Regions from separate parts of the Homo sapiens genome. Here region 2 is reported to be linked to region 1. The links are microRNA targets in miRTarBase. Many come from high-throughput screens and were not tested one by one. Region 1 holds a microRNA gene; the other region holds the end of a gene's coding sequence.
The links. The annotated mature microRNA hsa-miR-4697-3p reads UGUCAGUGACUCCUGCCCCUUGGU and lies in region 1 at 1,979-2,002, opposite strand. An mRNA with a match to its seed (bases 2 to 7 or 8) in the 3' UTR can be bound and repressed. Matches are read on the target gene's strand: a 7mer-m8 pairs with bases 2 to 8, a 7mer-A1 pairs with bases 2 to 7 and ends in A, and an 8mer does both.

Region 2: the mRNA of PDZD8 is a reported target of hsa-miR-4697-3p. Seed matches in the 3' UTR shown: 7mer-A1 at 2,136-2,142 and 7mer-A1 at 1,162-1,168.

What each region holds. Positions count from the first base shown.
Region 1 is chr11:133,896,528-133,899,756 of GRCh38, forward strand. It overlaps MIR4697 (microRNA 4697), which reads right to left and starts at 2,054; the gene lies at 1,977-2,054. It overlaps IGSF9B (immunoglobulin superfamily member 9B), which reads right to left. Exons shown (of 20, transcript NM_001277285.4): 20 at 1-3,229.
Region 2 is chr10:117,280,698-117,283,697 of GRCh38, forward strand. It overlaps PDZD8 (PDZ domain containing 8), which reads right to left. Exons shown (of 5, transcript NM_173791.5): 5 at 1-3,000. The coding sequence ends at 2,571. Among named protein-coding and RNA genes, the nearest start is that of SLC18A2-AS1, 40 kb to the left of the region's middle.

The sequences.
Region 1 (3,229 bases):
TTTCATCAGTTTAACTTGCAACACTCCCGGGGTACCTGCACTGGCTGCACATCTCATCATTTGATGTGTGCCTTCTTTTTTCTCATTTGCTTATGCACGTGTTTGCTCATTTTGATTTGTAATTCAGGATATGAACATGCAGTGTTACTGGGGATGAGTTGGTTAGTACTTAGCAAGCCTGGAAATACCAGCGAGTGGAGCCTGGCGTGGTAGCCTGAGCTGAGGCAGGCTGCAGGTTCTCTTCCTGACTGAGTCTGGGGTGTCACTCCATTTTTGACTGCCAAGTCAAAGGACAAAGGGATCACCATCATCAGCAGCCAGGGCAGGCGTCTATTGCTTAGGGCCGTAGAGCAGGCGTGGCTTTGGGGTCATCTCCAGCGGGGTCTTCTCAGTGTTTGGGAAGAAGGGGCAGGGCAGTCTATAGGCCCAGGCCCAGCAGCAGGATGCCCAGGGTCCCTGCAGGAAGAACCCTCTTCCCCAGGAAAGCAAGGAAGGGTTCGGGAGGAGACAGTTCCTCCTACTCTTGGAAGTCTGTGATTTGGTGGCTGGGGGTGCCTGCCCATTGGAAGGGCCCCTTATAAATGCTTTGAGTTTGGAGATTTTGAGGGAAAAAAAGCACCTGATTGAGAGTGTAGCTGTTTCCAATACACCTCCCTTCCCTGACGGAGAAGGGAAGGAGGCAGAAAACAGGGGAGAGAGCATCCCCCCTTCATTCCCACACCGCCCCACTCCCAGAGCCAACCTGGGCCTCCCTTCAAGCTCGTACTTAGTACATTCACCATGACACTGTGCACCTGTGAGCTCTCTCCCGCTCTCACTCTCTTGCGTGCACACACGCACACGCACACACACGCACAGGTATGCACACATATATATGCAGGTGCGCGCACACACACACATCTGGTTTCCTTGCAGTCTGCTCAGGCAGCAGAAGGGTGTCCCATCCTCACCGTCATCTTTTACTTCCCAGGGTGCCCTTGGCCCACAGGTCCCCAAGACCCAGCCCCAGGCTTGGCACGCGCTGGCATTCCCAGGCTTTTGAGAAGAGGGTGATAGAGCAGGGAGCTCCTCACAGACAGGTTATACAGAGTGTAGAATATGTTCATATAAGGCTTTGGTACAGCACCGATTTCATGTTCTTATAGTTTGATTTCTAAGTCATCTTTTAGAAGAAAAAAAAGCTTACTGAAAAAATAGTGGTTTTATTTACTTTTGAGTTACATACCTGAAGTTCAAAAAGTAAGCCTCTAGTTGCCATTCAAGTTCACACTCAAAGGTGTTCTGTGTGCAGCTGTACAATTTGTTGGTTTGTCTTTAATGTTGAACAAAAGTCAGCCAACCCATACCATAAAGTCAGCTGCCCAAACTCACTTTAACCAGTCCATACATACATACAGAAAAGAAAGAGAGAGAGAGGGAGAACACAAAAGCCGCCCCTAAGTCACCCACCCCAAACCCCTAGGGAAAAATCAGAAAGAAGACAAAATACAGCAAGATATCAGGAGCCAGTGGGAGGAAGGAGATTCAGCCCAACTGGCCTCTTCGAGAACAGCACCATGAAGCACCCTAGCGCAGTGATGTTGTAATACTCAACATTCAAGAAATGGAAACGAGGTTGGAACGGTCTTCACAGGAAGACCTGGCATGGATCGGGGGTCGCCCCCAAAGAAAGTGGAAGAAAGAAAGAGTTCGAAATGAGAGCAAGAAATCTCATGACGAAACTGACAGTCATATCCAGAAAAGAAGAACTACAGCAAGAGGCTGCCGCGCACCGAGAGGTACAGAGTTTGTAAGGGGTCTGGGGGAGGTAGCCCCTCCCCACCCACACTGCCTGCTCACCCCCACCCTCTGTGTGTCCTCAGACCACCAGGTGAAATGGAGGAAAGAAGCTCATCTAAAACTTGCCCCCAGGTGTGCGATGGGAGAATTCTATCCTGCATGATCAAAGTCCCTCCTGGGGAAGAGAAAAACACTGAAGACCAAGGGGCAGGAGTCACTGACATGAAGCGGGATGTGGTCCCTTCACGTCAGTGACTGCGCCCCCTTCTGGGCCCTCTATCCCCAGCCCCACACCTGGCAGTTAGGAAATTAAATCTGAATGGGAGGTCAAGACCTTCTGACACTGATACAGACGACTTAGCAAGTGGAGCGTTAAACTGCTCTTCTCCCCTAGCCAACAATTCCCCTTTCTAACACCTCAGTCTAAAGTTCCAGAATCAAGACCATCCCATCAAGTACCTTCCTCCCAGTCCCTGGACTCTGAGACTCCACCCTCCAATGCCACAGGCAACCCCCTGTGGACAGGAAGTGTGTGTGCAGGCTTGCCTCTTCCCCCACCTCCTACTTTCAGACCGCCCAAAGTGGATCACCATGAACATCTACCGCCAAGAAGAGTGGAAGCGGGAAGCAGGCAGCAAAAATCCACGACAGAGCCTTTTCCCCAAGCTGCTGGTTGGTGACAGTGGGGAAGAGGGACAGGGCCCACACTGATCCATGGGAGAGTGATTCTCACACATCTCCCTATTCCCGACTCTTGCTCTATATAGTAGACAGAGGTAGCAAGACAGAAACAACTCCTCAGATACCTCCACCTTCTACCAAAGGGAAAAGCACCAAAATTCAATGTCCATTCTGCTGTGGGGACCAAGGAACGTGTCCCAAGCATGGGGAAGAGCTCAGGCTCCTGGCAGTGGCTGTGGGCCGTAAAAGCTCCATCAGAGCACACTCATCCACCTGTCGCCCCAACTGATGCCACAAGCGGTTCCCAGGCCTCCTCCTTACTCCACATAAAGCTGATCTCAATGACCTTTGCTCCAAGTGCCTTAAGGGCTGGCTCTTCAGAGAAGCTGGAGGTCCCCTCTGACACCCAACCTTACCTCATCTTGCTGAGCAGTGGAGCAGAAAGGTCACAGGTAGGCACTAACATCCCCTCCACACTGTACAATTTCAAGGTAGGGGCTATGGCCCCATCTTCCCTTTCCCTCCCCAAAATGAAGAGTCCTGTTGGAGGCTGAGGAATAGAATGGTGACATGTGGGCCAGTGGCTCTCCCAGACCTTGATGCTGCTGAGGACCTAATCTTGGGCTGGCCCTGGTGGGAGGGCAAGCCCTAGGACATGCCCGAGGTGTTGGAGCAGTTTACTCTGCTGGTTGCATGTGGCCAGAAGTCGGGCAGAGTCCACAGAAAGAGAGGGGATGGTGGGTCTAGAAGCCAACAGAACAGTAATGGG
Region 2 (3,000 bases), not on the chromosome of region 1:
TATTGCACTACATTACAGATATAGTTTACAAATGTCATTAGCAGCATTACTGAGCTTTCTATAATTGTGGTCTACAGAGTTAAATACTTTTAAAACATGAGTAGATTCTTATAAAACCAAAGTTTTGCATTATTTCAACAGCTCTTTCAAATGCATCAGTTTCAGCAACATGCTTGGGTATCATGAAAACTTCCATGGTTTAATCAATAAACACCAGCTACTTACAAGTAGTCCACCTTCCAGGTTATCAATGGTAAGTTATTTTTTATAAAGTGGTTACACACTGAGCAGATTGCCTCAAGTGTAAGTTATGGAACAATACTTTAGCTTTCAGGGAATTTGGTGTGTAAATTCTTCTATAGCAGTGTTCTTTTAAAATAAGATCACGTGGCCGGGCGTGGTGGCTCACGCCTGTAATCCCAGCACTTTGGGAGGCCGAGGCAGGTGGATCACGAGGTCAGGAGATCGAGACCATCCTGGCTAACATGGTGAAACCCCGTCTCTACTAAAAATACAAAAAATTAGCCGCGCCTGTACTCCCAGCTACTCCGGAGGCTGAGGCAGGAGAATGGCGTGAACCTGGGAGGCGGAGCTTGCAGTGAGCCGAGATCATGCCACTGCACTCCAGCCTGGGAGACAGCGAGACTCTGTCTCAAAAAAAAAAAAAAAAAAAAAAAAAAAAAAAAAAAAAAAAGACATCACGCTTAAATAAGTAATGAAGTATACTGAGATGTTTTTGTTATAAACTTGGCTAAGAAAGGTATTTAGTACCTGAAATTTTCGCTTACTAAAGTAACAAAAGGCATGAGACTTGGCTATTGATTTTTAAAGTGGAATAACTTTTCTCCCCTCAAAAATGTCTTTCTTACTCATATAAATAATGCCTTTTACTTGTATATCTTTTTACTGTTCAAAGCACTTTTGCAGTTATGCTATTGTTTCCCTCACAACAATACTGTGAGGGAGGTAAAGTATTATTATTCCCATTTTAGAGATGGGTCCTTTTGTAACTGCCTATGCTTACACAGTTCATTAATGGAAGGGCTTGAACTTAAACTCTTTTATGGAGTCCTGGAGTCTAGACCTGGGCCCCAGTCCTTAATATTACACCATGCTTTTTCCTGCCAGCAATAAAAGCTGCTCCATCTAGTTTTAAACTCATGTCAGTTTCACTATATAGCAATCATCATAGCAGTTACCTACAAAGGGACAAACATATACTTGTCTATTTTATAGGTATATAACAGACCGAAACCATTAAGGTACCCCAACAACAGTCGAGCTTACTTGTTTTCCCTCAGTCAAATGTTACTGGGACCCGTAAAATGGACCCAGTGTGAGTATATCTTCATTTTCAGAGAACTGGTCCCAATTCCTATGTATGAATACTATTTTTGTCATTCTTTTCTTAATGAATACTCACTACAGAAGTATTCAGAATGATCACCATTCCTTTACAACTGTAAGACGCCAAAGCAAAAAGTATATTTTGCATGATTCCTTTCCTTCACAGAATACTCCTACATGAAAATGTTTTTTCTAAAACAAAACCAGCCCAAACTAGTTATCAACACAGTCATTTTAAAAAGAGTCCTCCAAAACTTTAAATACCCTTTCACATGCTTTATTTCCTATGGGAGAACTGATGAGGAAAATTATCATAAATGTTTAAACTTTTAATTATAAAATTTAAATTTCCATTTAAAAGGAAAGCATCAATATTTTAAAAGATTATATTTCAAAATGCTATGTTACTGTTTTTCAGTAATTAAGTCTTGTTATCCTCTCTACAAAATTCTTGACCAACTGCAATCTACATTTATTTCCTATTACATTGTCTTTCAATGTAAGCTCTTCAAATTAATCACCATATTTTTACCATACAGCTGCACAAAAGCTTTAGAAAAAAATTTCACAGAAGCATCGAAAGCAAGCAATATATGTAAAAAATTTTTTTTTACTAAATCAGCATAACAGACTAAAGCTGCAGCATCTGCTTTCATGTTACATTTGGCAAAAACAAAACAAAAAGCACCCCCAAACCCCCAAAATAACAAAAATCTCAAGCAAGTAGAGACGATAAACTTCATAACACAAAAGAAAGATTCAAAACCTGTTCCCTCAGTGATTGCTGTTGTCAGTTTGGGCATGCAGCAAATTTGTTATAACCATGATGGAAATGAAAATATTTTAAGAATCTAGACAGTATTCTATTTAACACTAATTCAAAAACCAAGAGGAAGAAAAATAACACAAGGGGACACCATACATACATAAACATGAAAAGCTAGCTTACATAATTACATAATTAGAAAAGTTAAATAATTTAGTAAAAATAAATTCCCAGTATAAACCCAAAAAAGCATAGCTATAAATGCAATCCAAAACAACCAATTAGTAAGCTGGTCATGTTTTTACTGGAAAACAACCTTTCTCATTTTTGTTCTTACACAAGCAAGTAACTGGAGAAGCAGGCCAGAGTGCATACGAGGATTTAAACATGGTTGTATCTGTGGTACTTTAGATGCAACTTTACCCTGTTCATTTGAAAGCTTAAATAGACCTGTCTGCTACACAGACTCGGATGGGCCAAATAAGTCATCTGATATGCTGCTGAATGGCTGAGAGTCTATTAGTTGGCTTATTTCATTATCAAGGTCTTCTTCTGTATCATCTGTGTACTTGCTTATTTTTTTGGAGTGCTGGTCTAAAGACAGACTTTCTAAAGTTTCTATATCTTCAATGCCTGCTCTGTAGTGAATCATAAGAAGTGTTAGAGCTTGTAGCCTTTCACCTGATTTAGCTAAGGCAGCAGAAAGAAGTGATTTTTTCCTTGTATCAGTTGTCTCTTTTTCTTCTCTAACAAGGGAATTATTGTGTTCCAACTCCTGATCAATTTCATTCTGTAGCTTATCCAACATGAACTCTAGTTTCTGGATCCTTTCCTCTGTAGGCAAGCCCCTGTACAGATCACGACCAATTTCTTTAACTGCAATGAAA